Linked DNA regions of Homo sapiens. The protein of the gene in region 1 purifies or fractionates together with the protein of each later gene. This does not show direct contact. Each region holds a gene or a part of one and is shown on either strand. Other genes may lie near its edges. The genes, in order: SEMA4A and CNTNAP1.

Evidence for each region.
Region 2: the proteins of SEMA4A (region 1) and CNTNAP1 purify together in Homo sapiens (affinity purification with mass spectrometry; one large-scale study listed by BioGRID and IntAct). This does not show direct contact.

The regions. Positions count from the first base shown.
Region 1 is NC_000001.11:156,152,184-156,156,384, reverse strand, and holds the start of SEMA4A (semaphorin-4A isoform 1 precursor), read right to left. Parts: upstream 2,801-4,201; 5' UTR 2,621-2,800; intron 1,838-2,620; exon of another isoform or gene 1,836-1,837; 5' UTR 1,807-1,835; coding exon 1,668-1,806; intron 1-1,667. UniProt on the Homo sapiens protein: Cell surface receptor for PLXNB1, PLXNB2, PLXNB3 and PLXND1 that plays an important role in cell-cell signaling. Regulates glutamatergic and GABAergic synapse development.
Region 2 is NC_000017.11:42,692,258-42,696,272, reverse strand, and holds part of CNTNAP1 (contactin-associated protein 1 precursor), read right to left. Parts: intron 3,775-4,015; coding exon 3,553-3,774; intron 2,977-3,552; coding exon 2,737-2,976; intron 753-2,736; coding exon 399-752; intron 249-398; coding exon 121-248; intron 1-120. UniProt on the Homo sapiens protein: Required, with CNTNAP2, for radial and longitudinal organization of myelinated axons. Plays a role in the formation of functional distinct domains critical for saltatory conduction of nerve impulses in myelinated nerve fibers.

The DNA.
Region 1 (4,201 bases):
TGAGGACTTGGTGGGCAGGCAGCTGACTCCTGAGATAAAAGTGGGGGAAGGGGAAGGGTTGCCTGAGTGTGCTCCCCAGGCCTTGGCAGCTAGATGCACTCTCCTCCACCAGCAGTTCTTCCCTTCACCCCACCCCAACACAAGAGCGTTGTGTGCTGAGCCCGCAGTAGAGAGGAGAGGCAGCCAGAGGCAGGGTAATGGGGACGGGAAATAAAGTGAGGCACAGTGGATGCTCTTCCAGGCCTGGGACAGGGAGGGCTACCGTCGGGGAGGACGCCTTGGTCCTCACTAGGATGAGGAGCAGCAGGCAGACAGACAAACAGGAAAGTGTTGGCAGCCACAAGCAGCAAAGCTATATGCAGACAGGAGGGCGTATGTCAGAGTCCCTCTCGCCATCCCCCCAACCACCCCTGCTTTCTTCCTCTTCTGTTAAAGGAAATTCCCACCAGTAGAGTCACCACGAACAGAGAGGAAGCATTTTTCTTCAAAGATCCATGTGGGCATGGCTGGATGTCCCCTGGGCAGGGATGGTGAGCCAGGTGTGGGAGGCTCACCTAGGTCCTCTCCATGACCTTGGCATGGTGGGGTGGGTGGGGGTGTATTTTCCTGTCCCACTGGCACATCGGCAAGGAGGAAGGAGCTCCTCAGATCCTCTCTCATTAGCACTTGCACTGTTGCATTAGTTAGAAAGCTGACTAGCTAATTGATACCTTTGCAGGCTCAGGGAATCTTACACAGTACAGAGGGGAGAAGTTGGGGAATCTGGTGTGGCTGCGGGATGGAAGGGCCAGCCTCAGGGAGGAGCATCTCCTGGAGGCCAGGCCTCCCCCAGAGCTGCCATAAACCCCTCAGTTGCTGAACAGATCACCCTGTATTGATGGTCTGATTGCTCATGTCTTCCCCCTTGTGACTGTGAACACCTTGAGGGCAGGGGCTGAGGCTTATCCGTGTTTGTGCGCCCAGCATCCAACACAGAGGAGGTCTCTGCATCAATGAGCAATATACATTTCTTTTACCAATTGCCCCAGAAAGATGCTAAAGACACAGCCATGCCCAGTCACCTACAACTCCTACAGTGTCTACATCCTTTCCTGAGTCTTCTCCCTGGAGGTGAGGGGGCCAGCAGCCTCCACAGTCTCAGTAAGAAACCAGCCAAGCTGTGCTTGTGTGTGGGTTCCAGGGCCCATTCTCCAACCAGCCATCCCATGGTCCTGGACATGGTATGGTCCAGCATGATCTATGTGGTTGGCATGGGCCTGGCGAGCTCCGGGTCACCGGGTCCACATATGGTCTTCTAGCATGGGCCTTGACTTTGGGGTACCTGGGAGTGTGAAGCAGTTAGGAGTTTGAGGTGCCCAGCTTGGTGACAGTGATATTTAAGGAAGGAAAGAAAAATTACCAACATGGAGAACTGGAAGAAGCGTGCCCCTGGCCCCGTGGCCACCTGTTTTCCTCAATCTGCTCTCCAGTGGCTTTTCTTTCCTTTTGGACTTCTGTTTCTGGCTGTGTCTCTCTTTCTCCGAGATCCTCTGTTTCTCCCTGGCATCTCTCTCTGTGTCCCTGTTTCTCCATATCCATTTCCTCCCCTCCTCTGTTCCTCTCTCCTTCCTCCACCCACCTCCAGCTCTCTATTGCTATCCCCACACTTCCTGCTGTCGGACACTTACCTGCATAGTATCTGACCCTGGGCATGGGCCCCTGCCCGCCTCCCCCCGCGGTCGTCGTCGGCAGCAGCAGCTGAAGCAGTTGGAAGAGGAAAAGGCCCAGGAGGCTCCAGGGGTCCAGGCCCAGGGCTGGGAGGGCCATGCTCAGCCACAGACTGTCACCAGGGAGCTCTGGGGAAACAGGCACCCGGGCACTTTCTGGGTGAGCAGTTCTTACCACATCCCCCCGAGGACCAATAGGAGAGCCCCAGGCAGCAGAAGCGTGTGTATTGGTGGCAGGGGTGGGGCATTGGGGCAGAGAAGGTTCCCTATCTGGAAGGGCCCTAAGACGGTCTCACTTTCATCATCCTTCCAGGCCTCAGCCTGTCACCTCACTGTCCCCTATGGGTAGGAGCCCAGGTCTCCCCTATCCTGCTTCTTCTGTTGTCTTCTCACCAACAGCTCTGGTTTGCCTTTTTTTGCCTTACTCTCAGGAAGTCTTTCCTGTCTTTCCTCCTTTGCCTTCCCTCTTCTCATAGCCCAAGCCCAAACCGTTGCCTGGCTCTGGGCAGGGAACATTTTGGGGAGCAGGTTCCTGTACCCAAAATATAAATTCCTCAGACCTTACTCTCCTGTCACTTTCAGATCTGTTGACACCTGTGCCTCATACTCAGCTCTGACCCAGGTAGGCAGACTGGGTTTGAGTCTGCCTGCTCTAACCTCTCCCCCAGCCCCAGCTGGGTTCAGGGTCTTTGAGGCTCAGGCCTGCCTGGCCTGATACTTCCAGGGAGGCAATGAGGGTCCATCCCACCAGGTTGGTTATCAGCATTTCCCGGGGAGCTGCCTGGGCAGGGGTGGCTGGCCGGCTCCCAGCCTCTGCAGCTCCCCGGCCCCCTTGTCTCTTGCTCCTGTGTCTGCCTCCCTGGGCCTCTACATAATCTTCCCCAAGACCACCCACCCCAAGCCACCCATCTCACCTCACATACCCTTGAACCAGCCACAGTGGGAAACTCGGTGTCTGGATTCTAGGGCGGGGGTGCCATTCAGGAGAAAGAAGAAGGGGGGTTCCCAGGCCCCAGAGGCAGGGGACAGAAGGCTCAGCCTGGCTGGAACGGGAGTGCGGCCCTCCAGGTGCCCATCATGCCAAAGCCAGCACTGGGAGCTCTAGGCCAGGGAAACCGGAATTTCCACCTCTCGAGTTGTGACAGATCCTGGCTTGGGCGGAAGTTGGTGGATTGGGAGGGAATAAAAAGACGTTCACCCACCTCACAAGAGACACACCTCTCTCTCCCTCCTCTGCTCGGTCCAACCAGAAAGTTTAAGAGGCCCTTCTAGGTCATTTCAGCGATTCCCCTGCCTCTCCATCATGTCACAGCCAGTATAACCAGCCTAGCAGTGGTTTCTTCTCTTGCTTAAGATTTCCCAGATAGGGGACATGACATATTCTTCTTTTCACTTACCCACAAGGTGGGGTCTCTCTACTCCTACCTACTGGGAAGTCCCTGCAGTGGTCTAACCTTTAAACCTCCCACTCTCAGCTGGGCCACAGTCTTTAAAAAAATAAAATAAAATAATTGTATTAGGCTCTTATCCATGATTTTGCTGAGGAAGTCCCCCTTGCAGTCTAATCTCCATCACTCTTTGACATCAGGCCAATAGGAAGCCCAGAAATCAGGCCAGTAGAAAGCCCAGAACATTTCCCATCTGAACTCGTGCTCACTGGACCACACTTTGGAGGCACCCAACCCCCAAAGGTGGCTGCTCACCCCTCCCTAAAGGCTCCAGGGGGAGCCTCATAACGCGGGGTTAATGAGGCATCCAGCGCCAAGAACTCTGTGGCCTACAAAGTGGGTAGGTTCCTGCCCACTCGACATGGTCAGCTGACTGCAGGTTAAAGAGCACAGACATCCCAGGGCTAATCCAACTCTAATAAATAATCCACTTCCATCTGACATGCACATTCCTCCCTGGCAGGAAGTCCTTCCTGTAGTGTAACTTCCATCCCTCCTGCTACAGCACCAGCCAACATGGGGGATGTTACAGCTCAGGCTACTCCTTATAATTCCTCATCTGAGGTACTCAGCCTTCTTTCATCTCTCTCAGTTTCCCCGGGGGTTGGTCTCAGACATATCCTGCCTGACAATCGTTTCTGTCAAGACTTGCCTAGGACTCCCCCAGACTCTCCCAGAGGCTGGTTGCCAGGTCCCTTCCAGTTTCTTAGAATCAAGAGAAACTCCCATTTATCCAGACCCTACCTTCTGTGTCTCCCCAACCCCCAGCTCAGATTTGGGAAGCCAGTCTGCCCCTGGGCCTCTCTGCTTAAACAGATTGGCTCATTTGGGTCACTGGGAAGAGTTCTGATACGGGGAGGCTGGGGGAGTTCCAGCCCTACACTCCCAGCCTGATGTCCTATTCCCACCTTTCTGGAAGTCATAGACTCCATGCCCTGCCCCCAGTTCTTCCTCCAGACATCCAGAATTCTCCCAACTCCGGACGTCCTCTTCCCCAGCCCCTCTAGCCAATATGAATAGTTCACACTATCAGGCTTTAGCCCTCCC
Region 2 (4,015 bases), on another chromosome or scaffold:
GAAAATCCTCTATACATTCAAATGTGATCTACAAATATTAAGTATTTGATGTTTTCCTGGATGCCACAACGGAGACCATGAGGTTATGATCTGAACTGGCTCACCTCCCTCTATGCATACCTGGATGAAGAGGTTCCGGTAAACACGGGTGATATTGATGCTATGGGGCTGGCCATCGGTCACTGGTCGAGTGGTTAGCTGGTACACGTAGGGACTGGTGCCCAGCTGATATCGCAGCTGAAGGGTCCCTGTGGGGTGGGGAGAAGAAATTTGGGGTCTCAGGCCCCATGACTCCTATCTTCTAACAGCACGTGGGTCCTTGTATTTGTGAATCAATAGGAGAATTAGGGGCACCGGGGTGAAGCTGGAGTGGGGTGAGAGAGCCCGGGAGAGCTTACCATCATCCTTGATGAGCACAGCCATGTAGTCACGAACAAAGGAACTGACGTAGAGCAGGACAGCAGGGGCGGAGCTGGTGCTGAAGCTGAAGGAGACCTCCTCTCCCGTAACGTTGTAGACAGGCCCACGGTAACCGGGCACAGGCCGACCAGGCCGGGGGTAGTCGGGCAGGCGGTACCCGGGGCCATGGTAGCCAGGCACATAGCCCGGAGTATCATAGCCCGGGATGTAGCCAGGCTCATAGCCTGGCACTGGCCGGCTCAGCATGTGGGAGAACTCCCTGGCTGCAGAGCGCAGCGCTGACTGTAGGTTATAGCGCATCCAGGTGCCCGGCTCAAAGAAACCACCAATATCTGCAGGTAGAAGCAGGGAGGTTAGGGCCCCCACACTGCTCACTCCCCAATTCAGAGGTTTTATGTCATCCATACACACATCCTGAGACTTACTTCAGTTTCTGCCACCCTCACAACCCTCCATTTACTTTTAGGTCCCCTTGAGCCCCTCTGTCACAGAACAGAATCTTACAGCCATGGGAAACTGGAGATCATCTGATCCAACCCCTGCATTTTACAAATGGGGAAACAGGCTCAGAGATGAGTAGTGACTTGCTTAAAGACACGCAGTAAGGCCAGGCACAGTGGCTCACACCTGTAATCCCAGCACTTTGGGAGGCCAAGGCAGGCAGATCATCTTGAGGTCAGGAGTTCGAGAACAGCCTGGCCAACATGGCAAAACCCCATCTCTACTAAAAATACAAAACTTAGCTAGGTGTGGTAGTGCATGCCTGTAATCCCAGCTACTATAGGAAAGCCAAGGCAGGAGAATTGCTTGAGCCCAGGGGGCAGAGGTTGCAGTGAGCCAAGATCATGCCACTGCACTCCAGCCTGGGTGATGGGGATATCCTGACCCCATGTAGTATATGTGCCACTACTCACACTTCCAAACCACCACCAGAAATCTGTTGGTCCCTAAGTCTTGTATCTCCCTAGTCCCCCACACTCCTCCCACCAGTAACCCACCTGCTCATATATCCTCCCTATAGGCCAGCCTTAGGGAGGATGCAGTCTTGGCATGTGTGTAGGATCTTGCTATGGGGAATGTCAAGGCTCACCTTAACCAAGAACTGGGTCATTGACATGTTTTAGGAATGCAGCAATCATCAAATACATTGACAAGGGAGTTCGCCTGTGTTACCATGGTGATGGTGGGAAGATGGAGAAGCGATTTGCTTTTTTTTTTTTTGTAGACACAGTCCTTGCTGTGCCCCCCAGGCTGGAGTGCAGTGGCACGATCATAGCTCACTGCAGCCTTGACCTCCTAGGTGCAAGTGATCCTCCCACCTCAGCCTCCCGAGTAGCTAGGCCTAAGTGTGCACCACCATGCCCAGCTAATTAAAAAATTTTGCCAGGCGCTGTGGCTCACGTCTGTAATCCCAGCACTTTGGGAGGCCAAGGTGGGTGGATCACCTGCGGTCAGAAGTTCGTGACCAGCCTGGCAAGCGTGGTGAAACCCCATCTCTACTAAAAATACAAAAATTAGCCGGGTGTGGTGGCACACACTTGTAATCCCAGCTACTTGGAAGGCTGAGGCAGGAGAATCGCTTCAGCCCGGGAGGTGGAGGTTGCAGTGAGCCGAGATCGAGTCATTACACTCCAGCCTGGGCAACAAGAGTGAAACTCAGTCTCAAAAAAAAAAAAGAAAAAAGAAATTATTTTGGCCAGACGCGGTGGCTCACGCCTGTAATCCCAGCACTTTGGGAGTCTGAGGCAGGCAGATCACAAGGTCAAGAGTTCGAGACCAGCCTGGCCAATGTGGTGAAACCCCATCTCCACTAAAAATACAAAAATTAGCCAGGCATGGTGGTGCACATCTGTAGTCCTAGCTACTCGGGAGGCTGAGGCAAAAGAATCGCTTGAACCAGGCGGAGGTTGCAGTGAGCCGAGATCGTGCCACTGTACTCTAGCCTGGGTGACAGAGCGAGATTCCATCTCATAAAAAAAAAAAGAATTTTTTTTGTAGAGACAGGGTCTTGCCATGTTGCCCAGGCTGGTCTCGAACTCCTAGCCTCAAGCAATCCTCCCACCTTGGGCTCCCAAAGCATACTTGGTGATTTTGAGATATTTTTGCACCAGCTATCTGTACCATCCCTTCCTTGTCCATGCCTTTGGAGTCACCCATGATCTTCAACTGCCTAACTCCCCAAACTCAGAGCTCAGGAATCCAGGGACAACTCTAATTTTCCATGATATGGGCTTTACATGCTATTTCCTTCCCTGCCCTCCCTACATCCCATTACACCCTATGGCTCCCTGTTGCCCCATAACCAGCAGCACTTACCGTGGTTGCAGTATGGCCCATCAAAAGCCGTGAGGTCACAGTCACACGTGTAGTAGCTATAGCGCTCCACGCAGCGGCCTCCATGGAAACAGGGGAGCCGAGGGTGGGCACAGTGGCCTGTGCAGTTGGGTGAGGTACCCTCAGAGGCATTGGCACGGCCCTCCAGGTTCAGAGTCACTCCGTTCAGACGCATGGCCCTCAAGCAACCCACAAAGGGGCGTCTCTTAAGCTCTGCAGATCCTGGGAAGGGTAGGCAACAGGTCAAGAAATGGAGGCAGGGCCAGGCGCGGTGGCTCACGCCTGTAATCCCAGCACTTTGGGAGGCCGAGGCGGGCGAATCACGAGCTCAGGAGATCGAGACCATCCTGGCTAACATGATGAAACCCCGTCTCTACTAAAAAATACAAAAAAAATTAGCTGGGCACGGTGGCGGGCGCCTGTAGTCCCAGCTACTCGGGAGGCTGAGGCAGGAGAACTGCTTGAACCCAGGAGGCGGAGCTTGCAGTGGGCCGAGATCGTGCCACTGCACTCCAGCCTGGGTGACAGAGCGAGACTCCGTCTCAAAAAAAAAAAAAAAAGAAAAGAAATGGAGGCAGAGCCAGAGACAGGATGAAGTATTGTAGTTGGAAAGGGAGCCAAGAGGGCTGGAAGAATAGAATAGGATACAAAGGCCTGGAGGGACAAGTGAGACACTGGCTTGCTCTGAAGCAGAGGGGACTGGCACCTAAGACAGGAGGCTCCTGGAAACAAGGCGAGTGGCCTTGGAGGATGGGGAGGTAAAGGAGGCTTCAGACTTGCCTCTGGGTTGCTGCTTACCCACATAGAGGGGCTGGTCATACTCCATCCAGATGTAGGTCTGCAGTGGCATAGGCCGCAGAACCCAGGGCCGGTGATCCACTCGGAGCCGGGCCTGCTTCACGTTGATTTCAGCCCGGACCAGGTGCCACTCGTCATCATTGAACTCAAAGTCGTCTGAGTGTACTGTGAGGTTCTCATCCCCATTCCCCACATCAAAGGCGAAGACCACATCCCGGGATGCTGGACAGTGTGATGCAGGGTAGGGGAGAAAAGGACTCAGACCTACAAGACCCTTCATAGATCCTTGCCCAATATAACCTCTTTCCCTCACCTCTTTGGAGCTTCTTGAATATCCCTCCAATTTGTCTGTAGCTTGCATTGAAACTTACCAGCTGCTTAAAAACCTCATACCCTTTGTCTCTCCCCACATCACAGATCCCTGAAGCCAGCTTCCCAGCCTCACTTCCCAGGCTAGAAGCAT